4 linked regions of the Homo sapiens genome follow. The protein of the gene in region 2 interacts with the protein of the main gene of each other region in a pairwise test. Each region holds a gene or a part of one and is shown on either strand. Other genes may lie near its edges. The genes, in order: TRAPPC6A, ZMIZ2, BANP and SCAMP1.

Region 1 (7,408 bases), on a different chromosome or scaffold from region 2:
CTGCACTCCAGCCTGGGGGACAGACCGAGACTCTGTCTCAAAAAAAAAAAAAAAAATTAGCCGGGTGTGGTGTCGGGCACCTGTGGTTCCAGCTACTCGGGAGGCTGAGGCAGGAGAATGGCATGAACCCGGGAGGCGGAGCTTGCAGTGAGCCGAGATCGCGCCACTGCACTCCAGCCTGGGCGACAGAGCGAGACTCCGTCTCAAAAAAAAAAAAAAAATCAAATACATCCTTATTGAGTATGATGAAGCCTACCAAGAAAAAAGTGCGAGAGGGAGACCAGGAGAATGTATAAAGGAGATCCAAATTTGACTGGGGGCTCAGGGAAGGCATCCCTGAGGAAGGGATTGTTACGCTAAGATCTGAAGGATTAATAGTTGTTAGCATGGTGAAGATGTGACAGGTGGAATGGGCTGGGAGAAGGGAGCAGGCTCATTTCACAGGAGAGCGGAAAGCACTGGACCAGGGCAGAGGAGGGGCCACGTGAGAAAGGTATTTAGACTGACTGGGCAGAGCCTGGGGGAGGGCTGCAGGTGAGGGAGACAAGGCAGGTGTTGGGACTCCAGGGTTTCTCGTTTGAAAGCCAGGAAGGATATGGAGTGTTGGGACATTATTACCCACCCCCAGGCTGATGCATACTCCCTGGGCCATGCTGTATCTTCCTCATAGCAGTTACACAATGTACCAGACACTTTACTCATTTACTTGTCTGTCTCCTCCAATGATGACAAAGCTCCAAGAGTCCAAAAATTTTTGATGGTTCACTGAGTAATCCCCATGTTTTTTTAGAGACAGGGTCTCACTCTATCACCCAGGCTGGAGTGCAGTGGCATGATCATAGCTCACTGCAGCCTTGAACTCCTGGGCCCAGGCAATCCTCCCACCTCAGCCTCCCGAGTTCTTGGTAGTATAGGCATGTGTCATCACGCCCAGCTAATTTTAAAAATTTCTTGGCCAGGCACAGTGGCTCACACCTGTAATCCCAGCACTTTGGAAGCCCGAGGCGGGCAGATCACGAGGTCAGATCAAAACCATCCTGGCTAACATGGTGAAACCCCATCTCTACTAAAAATACAAAAAAAAAAAACAAAATTAGCCGGGTGTGGTGGCAGGCACCTGTAGTCCCAACTACTCAGGAGGCTGCGGCGGGAGAATTGCGTGAACCCAGGAGGCGGAGCTTGCAGTGAGCCAAGATTGCGCCACTGCACTCCAGCCTGGGCGACAGAGCAAGACTCTGTCTCAAAAATAAATAAATAAATAAAAATAAAAATTTCTTTTAGAGGTGAGGTCTTGCTATGTTGCCCAGGCTAGTCTTGAACGGTGGGCCTCAAGTGATCCTCCCACCTCTGCTTCCTGAGTACCTGGGATTACAGGTGCAAGTCGCCACATCTGGCTAAATGCATTTTTGATTTATGATGTTTTAAACTTATGACAGGTTTGTATCTGTATATCGAGATGGTAACAAGCAACATCCTCCCTGGGGCTTCTAACCCTGGAAGGAAACCAGAGCCAATAAAAATGTCTTACATGGCCAGGTGCGGTGGCTCACGCCTGTAATCCCAGCACTTTGGGAGGCCGAGGCGGGTGGATCACAAGGTCAGGAGTTCGACACCAGCCTGGCCAAAATGGTGAAACCCCGTATCTACTAAAAAAAAAAAAAAATTGGCCGGGTGCAGTGGCTCACGCCTGTAATCCTAGCACTTTGGGAGGCCAAGATGGGCAGATCACGAGGTCAGAAGATGGAGACCATCCTGGCTAACAGTGAAAACCCGTCTCTACTAAAAAAAATAATAATAATACAAAAAATTAGCCAGGTGTGGTGGCGCCAGCAGCGCTTGTGGTCCCAGCTACTTGGGAGGCTGAGAAGTGGGATGATCGCTTGAGCCCAGGAGGTCGAGGCAGCAGTGAGCCATGACTGCATCACTGCACTCCAGCCAGCCTGGGCGACCGAGCAGGATGCGCGTGCGCGCACACACACACACACACACACACACACAGTCCCGGGCCAGTCACGGTAGTTCACGCCTGTAATCCTAGCACTTTGGGAGGCCCAGGCGGGAGAATCACTTGAGCCTAGGGGTTCAAGACCAGCCTAGGCAACATGGCAAAACCCCATTATCTCTTTTTTTTTTTTCCTGAGACAAGTCTCGCTCTGTCGCCTAGGCTGGAGTGCAATGGCACAATCTTGGCTCACTGCAACCTCCGCCTCCCAGGTTCAAGCCATTCTCCTGTCTCAGCCTCCCGAGTAGCTGGGATTACAGGTACCCGCCATCATGCTCGGCTAATTTTTGTAGACACGGGGTTTCACCATGGCCAGGCTGGTCTTGAACTCCTGACCTCAGGTGATCCGACGGCCTCGGCCTCCCAAAGTGCTGGGAGCTACAGCGCCCAGCCGGCATATTTCATTTTATTATTTGACTCCCCTAGTGAAATGTAAGCTTCACAAGGAAGGGATTCTGTCTTAGAACGGTGCCTGGAATACAACAGACGCTCAATAAGTGGGTGTCGAATAAATAAATGTCCCACGCTGAGGCTTAGGTACGTTATGATACTCATTTTACAAAAGAGAAAACTAGGACACACAAAGATTAAGTCATTGGGTCGCACACCTAGTAAGTGGGGGAGGCGAGTCCTCAGCACACGCCCAATAACAGCATTATTATGATTACTAGCCGCTTACTCAGGCCTTGAGCTAAGTGCTTTACCCTGAATCATCGCGCTCAATTTAGCAATAACCCCGAGCCGGCACCGTCGCGAACGCCACTTTCCAAAGGAGGAAGCCAGGGCCAGACGTTGCCCTGCAAGGCCGGGGCTGGGCCGGGTTCGAACCCGGACGCCTGACGCGCCCTCCGCTCTCCCAGAGGCGTTACCTTGGTGGCCCCCGCTTCCTCCCCACGGAGCCCGGCGCTCACCCCCGGGCCGGGGTCGGGGTCGTGAGCCCACAGCTCAGCCACCATCTCCGTGTGAAGAAACTCAAACAACACAGTATCCGCCATGCCCCCTCCTCGCACGCCTAAAGATGCGCCCAGCGCTTCCAGCTCTCATTGGCCAGGCTTGGTAAGCCACGCCTCTTGCGTCATGGCGCGAGCCCTCCTACTCCGGCTTCCATTGGTGTTTTAGACTAGCCCCGCCTCCCCGCCCCGGACTCAGGTGGTGTGCGCGTGAGCCTGGGACACTAGGGGGCGGGCCTACGCCTTCTCTGGCCACATGTGGCAACATCTTCTGCTCTTACTGCCGTCCCTTCCCTATTTCCGGGTTCTCGAGCATTCCTATTGGCCAAATTACTGGTTACACGTGACATACTCGGCTTTTAAAATCCCTATTGGTCCACTCCAGACTTTCCTCGTCGCACAACCTGGAAGAGCCGGCCCAGCTGTTTCTCTATTGGCGGTTCCTCCATTCATGTGACTCTTCTGCACGCTCACTCAAAGCTGATGCTGAGAACTTGCTTCCTGATTGGTAGCCGGGCGAATCCACGTGACTTGGCCGCTAATGCCCGCCCAACCCGCTCCCCTATTGGTTGAAATCACAGCCCTTCAGCTGCCACGGTGAGAACGCAGCACTCGGGTTAGGAAGCGGATCTCGCAAGCTCCGAGCGTCAGCTGCCGGGTACGGTCTTTGGCGTTAGCGCTTCTCCCATCCCATGAGTGCCCCCAGCAGAGTCCAGTCGGACTGTCATCCTTTCTGCGACTCTGGCGCTGGTCCCGAGCAGCTCACGGGCCCGTGTGCTTCCGGGTCTGAGATTGGCATGGTGGACCAGGTGGAGGGTGTGGCCTCTACTAGGAGGCAAATTCGTAAAGACCTCGGCTTGGGACTCCGGGAACTCGGGCCCCAGATCCTTGTTCGAGCTGGTCTTCAGTTTCCCCATCTGTACGCTGAAGAGCCTGGGGTCCAGTAACCCCCATCATCACCCAGTTTACAGAAGAGGAAACTGAGGCCCAGACGGGGAGCAGCTGACACCAAGTCGTTAAGAGAATCAGCGAAGGGGCTGGGAATCCAGGACCTGCGCCTTTTACCCACCGCGGCGCCGGTCTCACGTGCAGTCCCTTCGCTCTTCTCCCCTAGTTCGGTGCCATGGCGTCCCAGGGTCGTCGGCGGAGGCCCCTGCGGAGGCCGGAGACGGTGGTGCCGGGGGAGGCGACCGAGACGGATTCCGAGCGCTCTGCGTCCTCGTCGGAGGAGGAGGAGCTGTACCTGGGTCCTTCGGGCCCGACGCGCGGCCGCCCCACGGGGCTGCGGGTGGCTGGGGAAGCCGCGGAGACCGACTCGGAGCCGGAGCCGGAGCCGGAACCGACGGCCGCGCCGAGGGACCTGCCTCCACTCGTGGTGCAGCGGGAATCGGCGGAGGAGGCCTGGGGCACGGAGGAGGCCCCGGCGCCCGCCCCCGCGCGCTCGCTCCTGCAACTTCGGCTGGCGGAGAGCCAGGCGCGGCTGGACCACGACGTGGCGGCCGCCGTGAGCGGTGTCTACCGCCGTGCAGGCCGCGACGTGGCCGCCCTGGCTAGTAGGCTGGCGGCAGCCCAGGCGGCGGGGCTGGCGGCGGCCCACAGCGTGCGCCTGGCGCGCGGGGACCTTTGTGCGCTGGCCGAGCGTCTGGACATCGTGGCTGGCTGCCGCCTGCTGCCGGACATCCGCGGCGTGCCAGGGACCGAGCCTGAGAAAGACCCGGGGCCGCGGGCCTAGCCATGATTCTACTTCCCAACCTGACTGCAATTTGGGGGTAGGCCTTGCTGCCTCTGGGACCTGACTCTGTCTCCTGTGTCTCTTATCACCCCCCACCCCCGCTCCCATCTTGGTGTCACCCATGGGGGCTAATCCGGTCCCCTTGGATAATGCTTTATATTGGATATAGTTCAACCCCTACTGCGGAGACCAGGGCCCCACTATCCTTAGATCTGGTTCCTCTCCCGATCCTGACCCTGCCGCCTGGTTCTGAGCCTTCCCCTGGGGCTTGGCTCCAGCCTTTGTTACATAGTTGCTCCTTAATCTGTTTCCACCCTGGGGGCTCACCAATTTTTTTTTTTTTTTTTTTTTTTTGGAGACAGGGTGTTTATCTGTCACCCAGGCTAGAGTGCAGTGGCGGGATTACTGCTCACTGCAACCTCGACCTCCTGGGCTCAAGTGATCCTCCCAGCTCAGCCTTCAAGAGTAGCTGGGACTGCAGACCTGCACCACCACGTCCAGCTGCCCGGTTAATTTTTTTCTGTCGGTTTGAAGAGGGGAGAAGGTCTCACTATGTTGCCCAGGCTTGTCTCAAACTCCCGGGCTCAAGCAATCCTCCCACTGTGGCGTCCCAAAGTGCTGGGGTTACAGGTGTGAGCCACCACACACTGGGCTCTGCTCTGCCTTTCTGAGTTTGGTTTCTGCTTATGGTGGGGAGCTTGTTCCCGTTCTTCCCACAAGAACCCAGGATGTGGCACAGCTTCCCTGCCGTCTTCCTTCACTCAGTTGGCTACGCCTCCCATCCTAGCTCCACTTCCAGAACTGCCTTCACCCTAGGCTGGGTCCTTGTTTTGTTTTTAGAGACAGGGTCTCACTGTGTCTCCCAGGCTGGAGTACAGTGGCGTGATCTCGGCTCACTGCCACCTCCACCTCCCGAGTTCAAGCGATTCTCCTGCCTCAGCCTCCCGAGTAGCTAGGATTACAGGCATGCACCACCACGCCTGGCTACTTTTTATATTTTTAGTAGAGATGAGGTTTCACCTTGTTGGCCAGGCTGGTCTCGAACTCCTGGCCTCAGGTGATCCACCCGCCTCACCTCCTAAAATGCTGGGATTACAGGCGTGGGCCACTGCGCCTAGCCAGCTGGGTCCTTGTTCTGCTGCCCAAGCTTGGCCCTGGTTCCGTGTGCTGGTTCTACTTTTTGTTCTCCCATCTGCCTCCTGCCTCCTCCCCTTTGAGCTTAGCCCCGCCCTCTCAGCCTGATTTCTGTTTCCCAAGTCCAGCAGTGTCGTGGGATAGGTTTTGCTTTCTTTTACTGTCTCCATCCTACTTACACCTCCCTGATCCTGGGGTCTGGGGACTCCCCATGGTTTCCTTCCTTCTGCAGGCCCAAAATGATGGCCCCTCTTAACCCAAGGCAGGGGATCTTCCTCCCAACTCCCTGGACCAAGGTGGCATTTCCTGCACACCCCTCCAGGCCAAGATGATGCTCGCTCTCAACTCTGTAGGCCAAGGTGGCGTCTCCTCTTGACTCTCCAGACCTAAAGTGACACCCTTCAGGCACTTCGGGCCCAATTCAGCCCAGTCCTGGTGCTTTCAGCGCCAGATGACAGCACTTTGCAGATAAGAACGATATGATGTGTGGATTTCACTACATTTGGCTCCTGGATGCTATAAAAGGACTTGGATTTCTGACTTGGCTCAGGGACTGGGGTTAGCAGTCTCTTTCTGCTCCTTTTCACCTGTGTTTTCTTCCGATCCCAGCTCTGGTCCCTCAGCCGCATTCATATTTACTCTCCTCTCCCAGCCTGATATCCCTGTCCCTCATCTCAACCCGAAGCCAAGATCTGAGCCCCCAAGATGGAGAATGGGGAGGAGCTTTTTATGGCGGACTGATTAAAACTCTTAAGCATTTACCCTTATGGTTAGTTCCTTTTGTTTCCCTATCTAAGCTAAGGGTGAGTTGGTTGATTTCTCTGAGAATGGGGGTCCCGAGACCTCCATGCCTGGCTTATGGAAGGTGAAGCTGTAGTTGGGAAATCAGGGGCCCTAGATTTTTGCCCTGGTTCTGTATTTACTCGTATTTTATTAATTCAACACACACGTTTTGGGTACCTGACCTGTGCTGCGGCTAGGGGTATAGCACCCAGTCCCTGCCCTCACAGAGGTCGCAGTCCAGTGGGAGAAACAGTAATAAGATGTTCTCATAGATAGTTCTAGTAATCATAATTTATAGTTTAATTTTTAAAAATAGAGATGATAGCCTGGCCAACATGGTGAAACCCTGTAGTTATTAAAAATACAAAAATTTTGGGCGATGTATCACGCCTGTAATCCTAGCACTTTGGGAGGCCGAGGCACGTGCTAGTAATTCCAGCTACTCAGGGAGCTGGGGCATGAGAATCGCTTGAACCCTGGAGGCAGAGGTTGAAGTGACCCAAGATCGTGCCACTGCACTCCAGCCCGAGCGACAGAGCAGGACTCTGTCTCAAAAATAAATAGGCCAGGCGCAGTTACGCATGTCTTTAATCCCAGCACTTTGGGAGATCGAGGTAGGCAGATCACCTGAGGTCAGGAGTTCTAGACCAGCCTGGCCAACATGGTGAAACTCTATCTCCACTAAAAATACATTAGCCAGGCGTGGTGGCACATGCCTGTAATCCCAGCTACTCGGGAGGCTGAGGCAGGAGAATCGCTTGAGCCCAGGAGGTGGAGGTTACAGTGAGCTGAGATCATGCCACTGCA
Region 2 (7,028 bases):
TCCAGTTACTCAGGAGGCTGAGGCAGGAGAATCGCTTGAACCTGGGAGGTGGAGGTTGCAGTGAGCCTAGATCGTGCCACTGCACTCCAGCCTCGGTGAAAGAGCAAGATTCCATCTCAAAAAGAAAAAAAAAAAATTAAAGATTCATGTGCATTATAAGAAATGACACAGAGAGATTTATTCTGTCCTTTACCCAGTTTGCCCCAATGGTAACATCTTGGAAAACTAGTACAACATTGCACCAGGACACTACACTGATACAGTAAAGAGGTTACAGCCTGTTGCCTTCTATTTTTTTTTTTTGAGATGGAGTTTCACTCTTGCTGCCCAGGCTGGAGTGCAATGGTGCGATCGGCTCACTGCAACCTCCACCTCCTGGGTTCAAATGATTCTCCTGCCTCAGCCTCCTGAGTAGCTGGGATTACAGGCGCCCACCACTACGCCCGGTTAGTTTTTGCCCAGCTAATTCTTATGTTTTTAGTAGAGTTGGGGTTTCACCATGTTGGCCAGGCTGGTCTCGAACTCCTGACCTCAAATGATCTGCCCACTTCAGCCTCCCAAAGTGCTGGGATTACAGGCGTGAGCCACCGTGCCCAGCCTGTTGCCTTCTTATATTCACGCCCACCTTCCTCCTGCCAAAATTACAGAAATGGAGAAGAGATTAGTACCTTTCTCTTTACCCCCACATTTAACCCCTGGCAATCACCAATCTGTTCTCCATTTCCCTAATTTTGGTGTGTCAAGAATGCTAAATAAAGGAATCGTACACCGTGTAGCCTCTTGGGATTGGCTTTTTCCACCGAGCATTAATTCTCTGGAGATTCATCCAGGTTGTTGCATATATCAGTAGTTCATTCCTTTATATTGCATCCGGGCTATGGATGTACCACCGTTGATTTAACTCTTCATCCATTGAAGGACATCTGGGCTGTTTCCATTCCATAGCTCTTGCAAATAAAGCAGTTATAAACATTTGTGTACAGGTTTTTATGTGAACATAAGTTTTCATTTCTCTGAGATAAATGCGTACAAGTGCAGTTGCTGGGTCATAGTAGGGTAGCTGCTTGCTTAGTTCCATATGATACGGCCAGACTGTTTCCCAGAGTGGCTGTACATTTTACATTCCCACTAGTAATGTGTGAGAGATCCAGTTTCTCCTTGCCAGCATTTAGTGATGTCACTATTTTTTATTTTAGCCATTCTGATGGATGTATAGTGATATCTCACTGTGGTTTTAATTTGCATTTCCCCACTGACTAGTGATGCTGAGCATCTTTTCTTATGCTTATTTGCCATCTGTATATTCTCTTTGGCAAAGTGTCTCTTTATGTTTTTTGCTTATTTTCTAATTGGAGTTTTTAATTTTAATTTTTTTTTTTTTTAGTTTTGAGAATTCTTTTTTTGTTTTGTTTTGTTTTTTAAATCATGGTTCACTCTGTCATCCAGGCTAGAGTACAGTGGCATGATCATGTCTCACCCCAGCCTCCACCTTCTGGGGTCAAGTGATCCCTCCACTGCAGCCTCCTGAAAAGCTGGGACCACAGGTGCATGCCACCACGCCCAGCTAATTTTTAAATTTCTTGAGGAGTCGGGGGTCTCACTCTGTTGCCCAGACTGATCTTGAACTCCTGGGCTCAAGCAGTCCTCCTGCCTCGGCCTCCCAAAGTGCTGGGATTATAAGTGTGAGCCACTGTGCCTGGCTGAGAATTCTTTATATGTTCTAGATACTAGTCCTTTGTTGGATATGCAGCTTGCAAATATTTCTCCTGGCCTGTAACTTATCTTTTCATCCTCTTAGCAGGGCCTTTCCCGAAGGAAAAATTTTAATTTTGATGAAGTCCAGTTTATCAGTTTTTTTCTTTTATGGATCATGCCTTTGGTATCAGGTCTAAGAGCTCTTTGGCCTAGATCACAAAGATTTTCTCCTATATATTTTCCTGAATATTTTATAGATTTATGTTTTACAGTTAAATCTATAAACCATTTTGAGTTACTTTCTGTATAAGGTGTGAAGTTTAGGTGTTTTTTGTTTGTTGTTTTGATGCCCAGTTGCTCCATTGTCCCAGCACCATTGGTTGGAAAGGCTGTCCTTCCTCCTTTGAATTGCTCTCGCACCTTTGTCAGACATTGTTTGGGCCTATTTGTGCAAATCAATTTCAGATTCTCTGGTCTCGCCTGTTGGCCCATGGTTCTGTTCCCATGTTGGTACCACACAGTTTTGATTACCATATCTATATTCTAAGTCCTAAAATCTGTGTATGGCTGCTCAAGGCCCCACCCAGCAGTTCTGGGGAGGAGTTTCTGGCTGTTGGCAGGTTCCTCTGTCCCCCAACATCACTATTCCTGAGTCAGGCTATGGGACTGGGATTGCCACCCCTACCTTGCCTGGCTGGGCCATCTCAGCTCCCAGGCCTGTTCTTGCCTAGAGTCCAGGTGCCTGGAGCCTTCTGGAGCCATCAGCCCCTGGTTTTCTTCACCCCTGCTTCCTGGGCAGGACTTGGTCTGGGGGAGCAAGGGGAGGAGCCTATGGGCTGGGAATCAAGTCTTGCCTCCCCTGAGGGTGTGAGGAAGTCCAGAACACTGCCCTCTCCCTCTTCCCTAATTGGTACCCCCCAGTCCCAGTGCTCGGTGATGGGAAGATCCAGTGAAAGGCCACATGCTTAGACTCCCCAGGCAGAGCTCAGCTCTACTTCTCACCTGCTCTGGGGCCCTGGGCACACAGCTCGCCCTCAGAATCTCCAGGTCTATATTTTGAGGGGTGAGGCTGTTCCTACCTCCATTGGTGAGGCCCTCGGTCAGCACAAGAAATGGCAGCCTAGATGAATGCGGGGCCACCCTCTCCTGGGGCAGGGAGAGGCCATGTGAGTGCTGCGATGGCAGGATGGCACCAGTGGTCAGCACGCCTCAGGTGGCATGTCTGTGTGTGTGGCAGCCTTGTAGGCCCTAAAAGGGAGTAGTATCCAAGGCGAGCATGCCTGGGGACTCCTGAGAAACAGCTGAAGCGGCCTCTCCTGTGCTGCAGCCAGTGTTCCTCTGTGGATAGCCTAGGCAGGCAGAGGTGGACATGTCAGGTGGTCCTGGGAGTGTCAGAACCCAGGGTAGTGCCAGTGAGGGCCCTTCAGGGACACTCAGGGGCAGGGCTCCAGGGCATGTCTGGGCCTGCTTTGGTAAGGGGCTTGCTTGTGGCAGTGTCGGAAGGCGTGGCACTCAGAAGCAGCCTGAAGGTGTGGTCACTTCCGTGGCTTATTTACTAAATGGGGAGAGCAAACTTAGCGTGGCACATGTAAGTCCCATGGTGCCAGCACTGTGGTCCTGCATGCGTCCTCCCTGACACACCCCCTCTGCTGCCCTGTCCTGAGCACCAGGTCACTGGTATCCACTCAGCCCCATCTTGCAGAGTCACTTCAATGTCTCCCCAGCCCCTTTCTTAGAAACACTGGCCAAGTCACAGTCCCTGCCAGGTCTGTGGGTGCCCACCCTCCATCTATTGTGCTGTGTGTCCCTGCCCTCTCCTGGGGGTGTCATGGATGGGCCAGTGGGTCTGCCTGCCTGGCCCCTAGGACCATATCAGCCTCGGGCAGCCCCCACTTGGTGGAATCTGGGTCAGTTCTGAGGTGCCCTGGCCTGGAGCCCTTCTACTACCCTAAAGAGGGCCTTCTTGTTGGGAGGGGCTGCTAGCCAGAGCCCAGGTTACTGGCCCCACACCCCATTTCAGGAGGTATCCTGCATGTCCCTCCCCAAGGCCAGGATGGAGAGTTGTTGGTTGACCACTGCACTCCTGTGATCACCGCACCCCTGCACTCTCCTCCTCGGCTTTCTCAGCCCCTGGCCTCCAGAACCGCCTATGCCCCTACCTGGGCTACTCAGGGTAGACAAGACCTTTAGCAGGGAGTCCCCTCACCTCCACTGCCCTCTGTCCTTCACCCCAGGGCCTTCTGTGGGGTTACTGGCTACTGGCTCCTCTCTAAACCCCAGTTTCCACGGGGTAGCTAGGATTGTCCCTGGCTTTATAAGGATAGCCAGGCCTCGGTGTGGGCGGGAGAGTGGGGAAAGTATTTGGAATCGGGAAGTCCATCTCTAGGGCTGATCCAGGGACTCTGGGTGGCAGGGCCTGGTCAGAAAGGGTTCATGCTGGCCTCCAGGCTGTATTTGTGGGGGCAGATCCTCACCAGAGTGAGTGGGGTGGGTCAGTACTAGGCCCCTCCACTGCCTTGCCTGCCATCAGAGCCCAGGGGTCCCTTATTGAGAAAGAGGTGGGGCCTGCTGGCACCGGGGTCCCTCCACCCTGCTGAAAGGGTCTCCTGGCTGCATCGCAGCTAACATCCCTTCCTTCCTGTCGGGCAGCCAGAGCAGCTGAGTTCCAGATAAAAACTGTCAGACCCGGCCTGTAGGCTGCTCCATTGCCAATGAACTCCATGAACCCCATGAAACCTGCCCTGCCCCCTGCGCCACACGGGTGAGTGTGGGCTCCTCTGCCCACCCCTCAGGCCCTGGGGTTGGGGGTGGCATTTCTGGAAGATCCTAGACTCTTGGACACCAGTGGCTTCCTGACCCAGGCCTCAGCAGCCTCTTTCCCTGCAGTGATGGTTCATTCGCATATGAGTCTGTGCCTTGGCAACAAAGCGCCACTCAGCCGGCTGGATCGCTGTCTGTGGTCACTACTGTGTGGGGAGTTGGCAACGCGACACAGAGCCAGGTAAGCACCCACTGGTGCCCCACCCCCGAGCAGACAGAGCCTCCCAGCACTTGGCAGTGCTTAGTGCCTCCTCAGAGCTCTGAGAGACGAAGAGGCTGAGAGGTGAGGACAGAGAGGCTGAGGCATGACATATGAGGATGGGGCCTCCTGAGTCCCCTAAGTCTTTGGACACTGGTTCTCTTTCCACACCTGCTGTGGGATTTTCTTCTCCTGTCTTCACCTAGCCTTCACAAAATGCCCCAACCTCCCTGTGGACAGCTGCTTTCCCTGCTTCCCGTGCTATACCCTGTCCCCCCCACCTCTCCCCCAACCCACTTGCCAGGCCTGTTGGTTTCTAGCACTTTGGAGCTGCTGCATGAAGCACGTTGTTTGGCTGGTTCCCTTTGGTGATTCCTGCTTCCTCATAGGTTTTGGGGAACCCCATGGGCCCTGCAGGGAGTCCCTCTGGCAGCTCCATGATGCCTGGTGTGGCAGGGGGCAGCTCCGCCTTGACCTCCCCACAGTGCCTGGGACAGCAGGCGTTTGCTGAAGGCGGCGCCAACAAGGGCTACGTGCAGCAAGGCGTGTACAGCCGCGGGGGCTACCCTGGGGCCCCCGGCTTCACCACCGGGTAAGCAAGTTCCCTCACCTGGCAGGTATGCTAGGAGCCATCAATCTGGCAGGCACCTCAGAACTGTGGCGCTGATCAGCTGGACGTTCCCTCTCTGCTTCCTGACAGCTGTAGTGGAGGGTCTAGAAAGAATGGGCTCCCCCTGGGTGCTGCATGCCTCTGGGGTGAGCACAGTCCTGGCCCTCATGAGCCCACGCAGAGAGCGTGGCAATCCTGTGTCTCCTGCAGGTATGCAGGCGGCCCGGGGGGCCTGGGCCTCCCCTCACATGCTGCAAGACCCTCCACTGACTTCACGCAAGCGGCAGCTGCTGCAGCTGTGGCTGCTGCGGCAGCCACTGCCACCGCCACAGCCACAGCCACCGTGGCTGCTCTCCAGGAGAAGCAGAGCCAGGAGCTGAGCCAGTATGGAGCGGTGAGCCCCCTCAGCAGCTCCTCCCACATGGCAGCCAGCCTGAGGGCCTGGGAGGAGGTACTCAGCCAGACAGTGGGCTCCAGGGACAAGCATGGAATATGCCAGGGCTCATGAAGCCAGTAAAAGAGAGATGTGTGGGAAGGAGTGAGGGTCTGAGGGGAGAGGTTTCTGGGGTGTCCTGTGAAAGGGTATGGTGCCCACATGGGTGGGTGGGCGGGTTTTATGCCTATCTTTTGGAGCCCTTTGTGGGTGGGACCTGGACCATTCTTCTTTTTTCTCTTCCTAGATGGGGGCCGGACAGTCTTTTAACAGCCAGTTTCTGCAGCATGGAGGTCCCCGGGGGCCTAGTGTCCCCGCTGGCATGAACCCTACTGGCATAGGAGGGGTAATGGGCCCCTCTGGCCTCTCCCCCTTGGCTATGAACCCCACCCGGGCAGCAGGAATGACACCCTTGTATGCAGGGCAGCGTCTGCCCCAACATGGGTATCCTGGGCCTCCCCAGGCCCAGCCACTGCCCCGACAGGGGGTCAAGAGAACCTACTCTGAGGTGAGTGTCCAGGTCACCTAGTTTGGGGCCTTGGGTACCAACTCCCTCACCCAGGCACTCTTTAGAGCTGTGGTAAAGAGCAGGCTTCTGGCTGGGCATGGTGGCTCACGCCTGTAGTCCCTGCACTTTGGGAAACCAAGGAGGGTGGATCCCTTGAGCTCAGGAGTTTGAGACCAGCCTGGGCAACATGGCGAAACCGTGTCTCTACAAAAATTAGCCTGGTGTGGTGGCATGTGGCTGTAGTCATAGCTACTTGGGAGGCAGAGGTGGGAGGATCGCCTGAACCCAGAAAGTTGAGGGTGCAGTTAGCTGTGATCGCTCCCCTGCACTTCAGGCTGGGCAACAGGAGTGAGACCCTGTTTCAAAAAAAAAAAAAAAAAGCAAAAGCCGGGCATGCTGTCTCATGCCTGTAATCCCAACACTTTGGGAGGCTGAGGCAGGTGGATCACTTGAGATCAGGAGTTCAAGACCAGCCTGGCCAATGTGGTGAAACCGCATGTCTACTAATAATAGAAAAAATTAGGCCGGGCGCGGTGGCTCACGCCTGTAATCTCAGCACTTTGGGAGGCCAAGGCGGGTGGATCACGAGGTCAGGAGTTGAAGACCAGCCTGGCCAGCATGGTGAAACCCCATCTCTAATAAAAATACAAAAAGCATTAGCCGGGTGTGGTGGCGGGCGCCTGCAGTCCCAGCTACTTGGGAGGCTGAGGCAGGAGAATTGCTTGAACCCAGCAGGCAGAGGTTGCAGTGAGCTGAGATCATG
Region 3 (4,411 bases), on a different chromosome or scaffold from region 2:
GAACTCCTCCCAGAGAAAGCCCAGAGAGGCCCCGCTCTAAGTCAGCGAACACGGCTTCACGTAGGCCCTTCCCAAGCCCCTAACGCAACTGCCACAACGGTGTAGGTGAAGCAGTCCAGGCCCGGCTGGTCACCAGGGATTCAACTGCCTCTGGCACTTCTATTTGCAGATATTATCTCTGCCTTAAAAAAATCTGTAAATAGTAGGGCCTGCCCCTGTGGCTGCAACTTTCTCTAAGGACCCCAGGACTGTGCCTTCTGGAGCTGGCAGAACTCTGTGGTTTATGAGAACAAGAAGTTCCACAGCTGTGTCCTAAACCAGGTTTCCCCTCGGCAGTGCCTACAACACGGAAACAGAACTGACTGTCCCGGGGTGCCCACACCTACTGTCTGCACAGTGGAGAGGGCAGCAGCGTGGCCTGAAGGCCAGCGAGCCCAACCCCCCAGGGACAGGCACTCTCTGGCGAACCGTCTCGCAGGAGGAAAAGCGTAAGGCTGCTGTGGTCATAAATACATTTTATTTCATTAGAAATGCATAATTACAGTGTTTAAGAGCATTTCCCCTAGAAAAGTAGGTCAGCAATACCCCATCGGAACCGAGAGCTGGCTTTGCAAACACCTGCCTCATGACACTGGACAGAGCACACAGCAAAGGGCTCCCGTCTCATGACACTGGACAGAGCACACAGCAAAGGGCTCCCGTCTCATGACACTGGACAGAGCACACAGCAAAGGGCTCCCGTCTCATGACACTGGACAGAGCACACAGCAAAGGGCTCCTGCTACTCCCCTGGGATTTTTTTTTTCAAATTTTCTTTTTTGTTATAAACACCATAGCAAATTAAAAAAAGCTGTTTAAACAGAAAAATATCATAGTTCTTGATTTCCCGCGCATATGCGACGCTCTCCGCACCGTGCCTCCCCTCGTGCTCCGACACCAACAGCAGGACTCAAACGAAAGGGGTCTCCGGCTGGGGGCGGCGGCGGCTGCTCTTTCAGTTGATAGGATGCTGTTCCCCGCGGAGGCAGCGGCCTTCAGACGCACTTCAGCAGAACACGTGCAGCCGCTGCCTGTGCCGAGGCCGTGAGAGCAGGGCGCGTGGGGGCCGGGCCGTAGGCGGAGCCGGCGAGGGGCTCCTGGTGCCATGGGCACCGCTCACTGAATCTGGATGGCCCCGTGCTCGAGCTGCATCTCCGGCTGTAGCGTGGGCTGCAGGGCTTCGGCCGTCTGCAAAAGGGAGAAAGGAGGGACTTTCTAGAAAAATACCCAGCACTGCATGGCCAGGGGGTGTCATGAACAGCCAGTGACTTTAAGGCAGAATGAGAAACACGCACACAGGAGCGCGAAGGAGCCCTGACGGCCCCAAGGCTCACCCGACTTGGTACACAACGCCTGGCTCCCAGCGGAACGACGCGCCCACGACCCTGGCGCCCAGGGAGGCTCCGGCACACCCAGGCCCCGGCCCGCCCCCGACATGGACTCCGTCACCGGGGCCGGCGCAGCAGCTGCTCCTGCCTCTCCACCCCCAACCCGCTGCCTCACTGGGAAGTAACCTGGAAGTGGAGAACATCCTGGCCCTCCCGAAGATATTTCCCTGAAGCTTCAGGTACCATTTTGCCTTCCTATAAACACTGTCCCAATGTTTCAACAAAGGATTTTCGGGGCAGCTATGATTCTTCCCTCAAAGATACAGGTTCTGGTCAACGAGTTACAGATATTAAAAGGACTTCAAGTACGAAATCACAGCTTTATCTTAAAATGAGTTAAAGGAGGTCGGGCGCAGTGGCTCATGCCTATAATCCCAGGGCTTTGGGAGGCTGAGGCAGGTGAATCACTTGAGGTCAGGAGTTCAAGCCTAGGCTGGCCAAAATGGTGAAACCTCGTCTCTACAATAAATACAAAAATTAGCCGGTGTGGCGGTGCACACCTGTAGTCCCAGCTGCTAGGGAAGCTGAGGTAGGAGAATCACTTGAACCCAAGAGGCAGAGGTTGCAGTGAGTCGAGATTGCACCAATGCACTCCAGCCTGGGCAACAGAGCCAGACTCCATCTCAAAAAAAAAAAAAAAAAAGTAAAGGAAAAACATACAGTCTTGGAATAAGTCACTCATCCTCCAGCTCAGCCACACGGAACACGCCCCAGGTGGAGGAGCCCACTCTAGGGCTGCCGTGCACACTCCCAGAAGCTTCAGCTGGAAGGCACAGGAACCACAAAGGAAGAGCCAGGAGAAGCCACGAGCCCACGGCCGAGCCCACGGGAGGAAGAGGCCTGGCAACTTCTACTCTAGTTAAGGTCCTGCTTCATTTTATTTTTTAGAGATAGGGTCTTGCTCTGTTGCCCAGGTTGGAGTGCAGTAGTGCAAGCACACCTCACGGCCGCCTCGACCTCATGGGCCCAAGTGATCCTCCCACCTCAGCCTCCCAAGTAGCTGGGACCACCAGTGCACACCACCACGCCCGGCTAAATTTTTTTGAGACGGAGTCTCACTCTGTCACCTAGGCTGGAGCACAGTGGCGCAATCTCGACTCATTGCAACCTCCGCCTCCCGGGTTCAAGCAGTTCTCCTGCCTCAGCCTCCCGAGCAGCTGGGATTACAGGCACCTGCCACCATGCCTGGCTAATTTTTGTATTTTTAGTAGAGATGGGGTTTCACCAGGTTGAGCAGGCTGGTCTCGAACTCCTGACCTCAGGTGATTGGCCTGCCTCAGCCTCCCAAAATGCTGGGATTACAGGCGTGAGCTACCGTGCCCGGCCCCAGCTAATTTTTTTACGTTTTGTAGAGATGGGGGTCTCGCTACGTTGCCCAGGCTGGTCTTGAAGTCCTGGGCTCAAGCAACGCCCCTGCCTCGGCCTCACAAAGCACTGGGATTACAGGCATGAAACACTGCACCTGGTCCAGGTTGTGCTTTTTCAAGACAAATGTCAAATGACACTCGATATACTGTTCCCTGGATGGAGGAGGGGCCTTCCAGGGTAGGATGAGGGGTCAGTATGAGGACTGTCTCCTGCGAGCCCGGCCACAGCTGGGAAGGCCTAACGGGAAGGGGTGAACCTCAGCTGGAATGGAGGAGCCACACCAGGGCCCTGGGGTGGGTGGCTGAAGGCCATGGGAGGTTGGGGTAGGGGGGCCACCGCCTGGGATGCAAAGCCCCTTCCCCCAGACAGCTGGAAAGGCAGCTGGGGACTTGGGTGGGTGGGGACAGTGGGGCACAGGTCTGGGCTGGCTGGGACTCACTTGCCCTCCAAGGACAGTGGCCAGACCTGTGTTCTGGGCAGAGGCTGGTGGAGGTGCTGCCTCTGCTACAGATGGTTCAGGGAGCCTGTGACACCCACAGGCCACCGCGCATTAAGACAAGTGTCTTCCCCTGCAAATGGCACCCCCCTACCCTCCCAACCCACTGCTCCAGGGAACAGGCCCCACTCTCCACTTTGAGGATTGGCCACCCCCACAGGCCAGCTACCTGCCTTCCCTCCTAAGGGAACCCATCTTCTCAGAGCCAGGCCCTCACAGCTGAGCCACAGGTTTTCCTAGAACGAGCTCAAGCGCGTGACCCTGCTCTGACCCATGCAAGATGCAAGACCATTCCCAAGCATGACTGGGGTGGGGGCTTCATGTGGATAAGGAGGCTCAACCAGAAACCTGTCTCTGTTGGGTGCAGTCACGCCTGCAGAGTCACCATGAAGGCCTTCGGTCACTTCCCAGTGGGGCAGAGCTAGCCTGAGGACAAGCTGAGATGGTAAGGCAGAGAGCTGGGCCCTTGGTGACAAGCTAACGCACCCTGCAGTTGTCTGGCCTCAGATGGGCAAACCCGCTCACCACCAAGTCCAACCACGCTGGGGTTTTCTGCAGGGAAAGCGGCCCCTTAAGCACGCCGTCTTCCTTGGCTGTTACGATGGATCCTAATTAAATCATTCACCTGGGGCCTGCCAGGAGGGCATGGTAACAGAGAGAGCTTACAGGAAGCTAGGGGTGTAAACACCAACCATGGGACACAGGTTTGTTCAATTCTGAAATCGGAAAATGACCAGAAACTTATAATGCAGCAGGACGCCCTCAGGCATGGCCCCCACATCTAGTTTCCTGGGCGCGGACCTCACTGCCCTCCTGCAGCGCTCCTATCTGGAACGGCACGGGGGGCTGCCACGCGTCCTCGGCAGGGGCTGAGGCAGCCACGCCTGACTGTTCTTCACGGACAGGCCAAGGTTCACACCACATAAAATAAGCGCTGCCGAACGAGTTTGCCTTCACCATCCCACCCACCCGCTCCTCACTGCCTGTGCGTTCTGCGCCCATGGCCCTCACCGTGCTTCCAGCGCATCTCCAGTGAGGTCGGCGACAATGTGGAACCAAACACCACGCAGAGTACAGGGCGCGCCTCTGCGGGGGCCACCGCGCCCATGGGCAGAGTACA
Region 4 (7,882 bases), on a different chromosome or scaffold from region 2:
CAGCTGAGGGTTCTTTCCAGCTTCAGAAGCCACTCACATGCCCTAGTTTAAGAACCCCTTCCTCAATCATCAAAGTCAGCAACTCTTCTGCTTTCCTCTTCCACTTTCAAGGACTCGTGATTACATTGGGCCTACTTGAATAATCCAGGATAATCCCCTCCTCTCAAGGTTCTTAACCTTAATTACACCTGCAAAGTCTCTTTTGCCATGTAAGGTAACATATTTACAGATTCTAGGGATTATAGCATGGACATCTTTGGGGGAGGGGAGGATTATTTGGCCTACCACACAATGCCTGCACCTCCTCTGTTATTGCCTGAAAATGTAGCCAGTGGCAGAATAGGGAGCCAGATAGGCTGGTGCTGGGGCGTCGAGGGTATCAGCAGACACAGCAGCAAATCTGGAGACTAGACCCACTGTAAGAGATGATGGATTTCAGTTCTAATCCATCAGTGAACCCAGAATCCAGTGAACCTTTTGAGGCAAGAAACGTAAATATCTAACTTGGCATTTTCCTAGCATTCCCCAGCTATAAGCTAGGCAGTTTAGAAAACAAGGAATTCAGACTCTAGACCCTGCTCAATAGGTTCACCAATTAAAAGTGTCAGTCTGAGGAGAAGCAGCATGATGATGATGGGAGGCACACTCTGAGGGGAAAAGAAACAGGGTTAGGGAGGAGTGAGCCACTGTCCCAGATTAATAGAACGTTAGAACTGTCCAAAGGATCTGAGATATCCTTTAGCCATGTTCTAGGCCTTTTAGGAAGTTTTCTGGAGCAGGCCTTACGCTTTATACCTGGTTTACTGCTTTATCCACAACATCACTGTTTTAGTTGCTCAAGAAATACTTGAATGATGTACTAGAGTAGAAACTCTGGTTAGAAAGGTGAGTTGATATGTTCAAGATCAAACGGTTGGTTTGCAGGAGAGAGGGCATAGACTGGTTTTGAGTCTTTGTTCTACCAAATTTAGGAGGTACCTTCCGTAAAATGAACTCCTGCACCAAATGAGGCTTCTTGTATAATTTCTCTCTACCTTGCACATAGCATTTCTTCCTTCTATATGAAATTATTCATATAGAATAATTCTATTCATTTAATAACCTATTTATTTAATGTCTAAAACATTAGTCAAGAGACCTGAGTTCTGTTCCCTGTTTCCCCATTCACTTCCTTGGTGTCTGAGACAAATTACTTAACCTGTCCAAACTCCAGTTTCTTCAATCATGAGAGAGGCTGAGGTTCCTTCTCAGCTCGCACATTCTATAATTCTAAATTTCATGGAGGCTAATGAATTAATAAGCTCCCTGCTATGGTTTGGGTATGGCTTTGGACCTGCAAAGTGTCATGTTGAAATATGAGTCCCAGTGCTGGAGTTGGGGCCTGGTGGGAGGTGTTTGGGCCATATGGATGAATTCCTCACAAATGGCTTGGTGCTATTCTCCTGAGAGTGAGTTCTCATCCTTGAGAACAGGTTGTTCAAAAGAACCGAGAGTCAGCTTCTCCCTTTCTCTCCCCTGATGCCCCATCTTGCACTGTAGCCATGTGATCTCTGCACGAAGTCTCCCCTTTGCCTTCTGCATGAGTGGAAGCAGCATAAGGCCCTCATCTGAAGCTGACAGCCTGCAGAACCATGAGTCAAATAATCCTCTTTTCTTCATACATTATCCAGCCTCCCGTATTCCTTTATAGCAACACAAACAGATTAAGACCCTCACCCATGGACCATATGTCTGCATGTCCTCATATCAGTGTTCCCAAAAGTGTGATCAGCCACCACCAAAGTCATCTCAGGTTGGCCAAGCATGGTGGCTCATGCCTGTAATCCCAGCACTTTGGGAGGCAGAGGTGGCCTGGATCATTTGAGGTCAGGAGTTCGAGACCAGCCTGGCAAACAAAGTGAAACCCTATCTCTACTAAAAATACAAAAATTAGCCGGGTGTGGTGGTGCATGCCTGTAATCCCAGCTACTCGGGAGGCTGAGGCAGGAGAATTGCTTAAACAAGGGAGGTGGAGGTTGTAGTGAGCCACGATTGTGCCACTGCACTCCAGCCTGGGTGACAGAGTAAGACTCGGTCTCAAAAAAAAAAAAAAAAAAAATCACCTGAGATCCTTTACATATGCTGATTTTTGCAGTTGTTAAGAATAATGAATCAGATATATGGTTTCCATTAGGCCATGCTTCCCTTTTCACTCTATAGGCATGCTACACATAAAAAGTGATAATATTTATGTGGCATACTAGGGGAAGAAACCTTAAGACTGTCTCTCTGACAATGCACATCTTGCTGAGAAATTCTGCCATACGTATTGAGAAAAACAGCTGCAGAAAAATATACATATGATCTAACTTTTTCAAGACAATGCCAAAGCTCAGTATTAGAGTGTATGCATATCTGCATGAATATGTATTGTTTTTATACAATTACATGTTATTTTATGTAAGTGCAGATATACACTATTACAAGAATATTTAAAGAAATGTACTAGGTTGTTAATGTAGGGGAAGAGAAGAGGGAATACACGGAATAAAAATTTTTGTAAGTGAAAAATTCAATATGTATGTCATGACTCCATTTATACATTTATGTAAAATAATGTATAGAGATGTAAAAAATAAAAAATGCAGATCCAGAGCCCCTACCTCAGATCCTTTCAAGCGTAATCTTAGCAATAGGAGGTATGGTAAGGTGGGTGTCTGCATCTTCAACAGGTATTCCAAATGATTCTATAACAGTAAAGTCTGTAAACCTTTGCATTAGGTGCAAATATCATTAGCTGTAAACAGAACATAGTTGGAAATTTCCATCCTGCAATGCGGGCTCAGCTGACCCTCATTGTCTTGGAACATAGTAGATGCATAATAAATAGTGCAGATTATTTTGAGTCATTTGGAGGACAGGTGGAGGGAGTGAGGGCAAAAGTGGTGAGAGAAGCAGATGAGCTGGGCAAGGACATGCTTGCTCAGGAGAAGGGAGGCAAAGCGTATAAGAACATACTGAGCCTCCTTGCCACTTTCGACGTTCAACCAATATTTGTTAGGCACTAAATATACATGCAGGACACTTTTCTGTATGTTGTTTCATTTAATTCTTAAATAATCCTTTACAGACTCAGAGAGGTGAAGAGAGTAGCACAGGTAGTATCAGAATTGGGATTCAAACCTGACACATACACTGAGCACTAAGTTAAAACCGGGCACTGGGCAGCTGCTGAGGATGCGATGGTGAGTACAACAGACTGCTTGCTCTTTTTGATATCTAGAATCGTACAGCTCTGCTGTGCTCATCCTTGTCTGTTGTCATTTACTAGTTGACATCTTCGTTGACTACCTAGAAGCAGCTGCTTCGACATCTATCCCAACCTGAATCCCGTCAAAGGGAGATTACAACAAATGTGCTTTTTGTCTATCATCTCTAGCTAGTGTTTCACAGTGGGGGGAGTATCATTTCCTGGGTGACTTTGCATAGAGCAAGCTCCCCAAAGGCCAAGGAATACTCAATCTAGATTCTTCCAATCCTCCGGTACCCACCAAGTCAAAAGAATTCTGGCTCCCTGTAGCTTCATCTAAGTGCTTTTCTGTTAGAGGAGAAAAGTGAGGAAAGCGATGCTCTTTCAATAAGTTCGGCAGGGTGGGGCAAGGAATGGTACAAATTGATTTTTTTTTTTTCTTGAGACAGAGTCTCGCTCTGTCTCCCAGGCTGGAGTGCAGTGGCCCGGTCTCGGCTCACTGCGACCTCCACCTCCCGGATTCAAGCGATTCTCCTGCCTTAGCCTCCAGAGTAGCTGGGACTACAGGCGTACGCCACCACTCCCGGCTAATTTCTGTATTTTTAGTAGAGACGGGGGTTTCACCATATTGGCCAGGCTGGTTTCGAACTCATGACCTTGTGATTCGCCCGCCTCGGCCTCCCAAAGTGTTGGGATTACAGGCGTAAGCCACCGCGCCCGGCCGGTACAAATTAATTTAACACATCTTTTGATAATCTCATCCTTGGTGTTGGAAAAGACGGGAAAATCCAAAAGTGTCTATTTTGTGCCCAAATGCTCAAGTTAATACTCGAGGGCCTTGATCTCTGGCCTCTTGCCATCCCTCTCCCCATTATTTCTGAAGAAGTAGCCATTTTGCAGATTCCGGAGGATGGGAGCCACGGCCGGCCCCTGGTACTGAATCTCATCTCCTTCTCAAGGCTCCTTGGATCAAGTTGGGACCGGCAGCGCCAAGGCTGCTCTCCGTGATTTAGCAGCAACCTAGAGTCAGAGAGACCGGAAGATGGGAGGCCGGGATTCTCAGGTGGGGTCAGGGGTATGCAAAAATCCTTAGCAGCGGCCGCGCCCCCGCCCCGGGGAGGTAATTTGCGGAGGGCGGTGCAGTAGCCTCTCCAGTGCCCGCGTCCCACGGTCTAACGGCACTGCTCCCGGGGTGCGCGGCCCACGACTCAGGCTGCCTCCCCCAACCTGACAAGTGTGCGTCCTTACCACAAAATGCCACCACTTCCCTAAGTGACGCTGGGCCCCGAGGACCTGATTTGAAATCGGTGTTCAGAAGACCGAGCCCGGCTGGACGCAGCTGGCCTCCGGCTGAGAGCGGAGGGGAAGGGTTCCATACTCTCCGAGGATCCCGCGGGCTCGTGGCGTGTGGAACGCTTTTCATCGCTTTCAGTTCCCGTTTCCTTCGCCCCGACTGCCTACTCGGTCGCAGCTAAAGCCCGGAGCGTGGGATCCGGGCCCGGAGGAACGGGATGGCGAACGCGAGCTGCGCCGCGGCCAGGAGCCCGCCGCACCGGGCATGCTCAGTGGCGCGGCCGGCTGGGTGGCCCGCGAGCTGCACCCGGATCTGCTCGGCGGCGGCGACGTGAGCGCGCAGGGGGGCGGCGGCCTCGCCTCGTCTCTCTCTCTGCGCCTGGGTCGGGTGGGTGACGCCGAGAGCCAGAGAGATGTCGGATTTCGACAGTAACCCGTTTGCCGACCCGGATCTCAACAATCCCTTCAAGGTGAGCTTCGGCCCCAGCATCTCCTGCCGCCGCGACGCGTCGTTGTTTGTGAAAACGGACGAGTTCCTTCGCGCCCACTGCGTCTGCCCCTCGGCTCCCCTTAGCAGCCCAGAGAGGGGCGCGGGGCCGCCGTCCTCCATTTGGGGTCGCGCCCCGGCCCCGTGTCACTCCTTTGGGTTTTGGGGCTTGGGGGTGGAACCTCCTCAGCTCGTGCCCGGTCGCCCTTCCACACGTCCCCGACTGGTGAGGGTCGTGTCTGCAGCCGGGACTGGGCCCGCGCGCCCGGAGGGGTCCTGGCCCGCCTCTCAGGAGAGAAAGCCGAGGGCAGGTAGAGTCGCCCCTTGCCAAGCAAGTGTGGCTGGCAGGGCCGGGAGTCGGCGGAGGGGGGCCCGCCCTGGGGTGGGGTTGTCATGGGGACCCGAGGTGGCGGCGGCGGAGAGCTGCGTGGGGTGATGGCAGAGGTGTGGAGGAGGAGAGAGGTGAGGGCACCGAGTATGCTGCAATTAAAAAAAAAAAGGTTATGTTTTTATTTTTTAAACTTGTGTTGCACCCAAATACCACCAGTGGCGCTGCCATCCCCCCTCTTTCTGTTAGGTTGAGGTTGAGGTTATTGATACCAAAGCAAAACTTAAAAATAAACATATCTGGAAAACAATAGTGCACGTGGACGACCTCTTCCCTACCCAGCTGCTTCTAGCAAGGTAAACGATGGGATATTTTCCAAGCTCCTAGTGCGTCACCGGTTCTCTGGGCTATGTGAGGATACCATTTCCTACTTGAGCTGCTTTTCTTCTTGGAGTCGACCTTATCAACCCCGGCTTCGGAAGGGCTTGGCACAGAATCCTGCAAAGGAAGGCGGCTGAGATATTCATCGTCTGCGTTTAAATGAATGCAACATCTAAATAACTCTCTCTTTGAAAGTATTCTGAATTTCCTAATGAGTGTAACTGTTAGCACGTGTAATTTGTTTCCAACTGTTGGTTGAAGTTGTTTCTCAATCCCCCCGGCCATGTGCAGTAGTAACTTTAATTTGCAGTCACACAGAATAAAACAGGAACTCTAATTTGTGGTCACACAAGTGTCACTTCTGGCTTGTTGAGTTTACATCTTTTTACTCCTGGTTTTATCTTTCATTAAGAATCCTGGAAGAGGAAAACTATTTCTGCTCTGATTATTAAATGCCTGATAATTCCAAGGAGGATTATTTTAATGAAATGACCCTGATTATTATTGACAACTCGACTCACTTTGTAGCAGTGTAGAATTAGACTCAGTCACTGTTTCATTGTCCCTAATGTCACTTAAAATTCAGTACAACTGGCCTGTACCTTTCAGTGACATGGTTGCATTTTAAGACTTTTTTTTTTTTCCTGGCAGTTTTGTTTCAATTAGTATTGGACTTGCTTCCATGTTGTGGAAAATCAGGTAGTTCTTAAATGGTAGACTTTCTAAAGAGACCGTTCATAAATTGTTAAATGGGTGTTATTTTAAAATATTTTGAAGATAAAACATCAAGAACCTTTTAGCCTTTCCTAATTCAGATAATTCACTGACGCTGTTTATTCAGCATCTGACGATTTGGCAGTGTATTTTCTACTTGGTCATTCCATTTCATGGTTCATTTCATATTAACTGGCTCTCTTGTTAGGGCAAAACATTGTCTTCATCTTAGCCCAGACTGTCCTTTTGTGACATCTGATATTGCCATGACACTTTTCCTCTTCTGACATTCATAAAGTTGCTGTAGTAATTCTAAACCCAGGAGTTGTTTTAAATATTCATTGTGGCATAACGTTATAAATCTTTTTTGTTCTTTTATAAGTGGATGTATCCAGGACAATGATTATTCAAGTTTGTAAAATGCATCAGGGACAGATCATTTAGGTCTAAAGTAGACTTGGTTGTACACATATTTCTGCTTATGATCTTTCTCTGTTTTTGGTGACTGTTATAGCACTGTCAGTGTATCTGACCCTTTATTTTTCCATTTATGTTCACCTGCCCCTCCTCCTCACAAAGTATAGTTTTATATCTATATTTTGTCTTTTTACTTCTGCTTATATTTATGTAAAAGTGATTTTTGAAATAACATTTCTGATACTCTACTTAAATCTGAAATGTTTCTAGAATCATTTGAGTTACTTTATGATCATTTTTCTTTTTTTACTTTTTTTTTTTTTTTGAGACGGAGTCTTGCACTGTTGCCCCGGCTGGAGTGCAATGGCGTGATCTCAACTCACCACAACCTCTGCCTCCCGTGTTCAAGTGATTCTCCTGCCTCAACCTCCCTAGTAGCTGGTATTACAGGTGCCCGCCACCACACCCGGCTAATTCTTTGTATTTTTAGTAGAGACAGGGTTTCATTGTATTGGCCAGGCTGGTCTTGAACTCCTGACCTCGTGATCCACCTGCCTCAGTCTCCCAAAGTGCTGGGATTACGGGCGGGAGCCACTGCGTTCAAGCAGATCGTTTTTCTTTCTTTCTTTCTTTCTTTTTTTTTTTGAGACGGAGTCTCCCTCTGTCGCCCAGGTTGGAGTGCAGTGGCGCGATCTCTGCTCACTGCAAGCGCTGCCTCCTGGGTTCACACCATTCTCCTGCCTCAGACTCCCAAGTAGCTGGGACTACAGGCGCCCGCCACCACCGGCTGATTTTTTGTATTTTTAGTAGAGACGGGGTTTCACCGTGTTAGCCAGGATGGTCTCGATCTCCTGACCTCGTGATCTACCCGCCTTGGCCTCCCAAAGTGCTGGGATTACAGGCGTGAACCACTGGGCCCGACCCATTTTTCAAATCTGTTTTTATTTGCAGTATTTGAAGATAAAGCTCTTATTTTCAAGTATATGATATTTCGCATTTGGTAACTATGCTAATTTCTTTTTCATTAAATCCT

Evidence for each region.
Region 1: the proteins of ZMIZ2 (region 2) and TRAPPC6A interact in binary tests that used the Homo sapiens proteins (3 or more experiments, as listed by UniProt).
Region 3: the proteins of ZMIZ2 (region 2) and BANP interact in binary tests that used the Homo sapiens proteins (3 or more experiments, as listed by UniProt).
Region 4: the proteins of ZMIZ2 (region 2) and SCAMP1 interact in binary tests that used the Homo sapiens proteins (3 or more experiments, as listed by UniProt).

Annotation. Positions count from the first base shown.
Region 1 is NC_000019.10:45,175,222-45,182,629, forward strand, and holds the start of TRAPPC6A (trafficking protein particle complex subunit 6A), read right to left. Parts: upstream 3,017-7,408; 5' UTR 2,998-3,016; coding exon 2,914-2,997; coding exon of another isoform or gene 2,872-2,913; intron 1-2,871. Other genes in the region: BLOC1S3 (biogenesis of lysosome-related organelles complex 1 subunit 3), read left to right, coding at 4,076-4,684. UniProt on the Homo sapiens protein: May play a role in vesicular transport during the biogenesis of melanosomes.
Region 2 is NC_000007.14:44,751,844-44,758,871, forward strand, and holds part of ZMIZ2 (zinc finger MIZ domain-containing protein 2), read left to right. Parts: intron 1-4,344; 5' UTR 4,345-4,406; coding exon 4,407-4,456; intron 4,457-4,581; coding exon 4,582-4,696; intron 4,697-5,103; coding exon 5,104-5,306; intron 5,307-5,534; coding exon 5,535-5,718; intron 5,719-6,004; coding exon 6,005-6,265; intron 6,266-7,028. UniProt on the Homo sapiens protein: Increases ligand-dependent transcriptional activity of AR and other nuclear hormone receptors.
Region 3 is NC_000016.10:88,073,406-88,077,816, reverse strand, and holds the end of BANP (protein BANP), read right to left. Parts: intron 1,228-4,411; coding exon 1,156-1,227; 3' UTR 501-1,155; downstream 1-500. UniProt on the Homo sapiens protein: Controls V(D)J recombination during T-cell development by repressing T-cell receptor (TCR) beta enhancer function. Binds to scaffold/matrix attachment region beta (S/MARbeta), an ATC-rich DNA sequence located upstream of the TCR beta enhancer.
Region 4 is NC_000005.10:78,355,737-78,363,618, forward strand, and holds the start of SCAMP1 (secretory carrier-associated membrane protein 1), read left to right. Parts: upstream 1-4,880; 5' UTR 4,881-4,935; coding exon 4,936-4,992; intron 4,993-7,882. UniProt on the Homo sapiens protein: Functions in post-Golgi recycling pathways. Acts as a recycling carrier to the cell surface.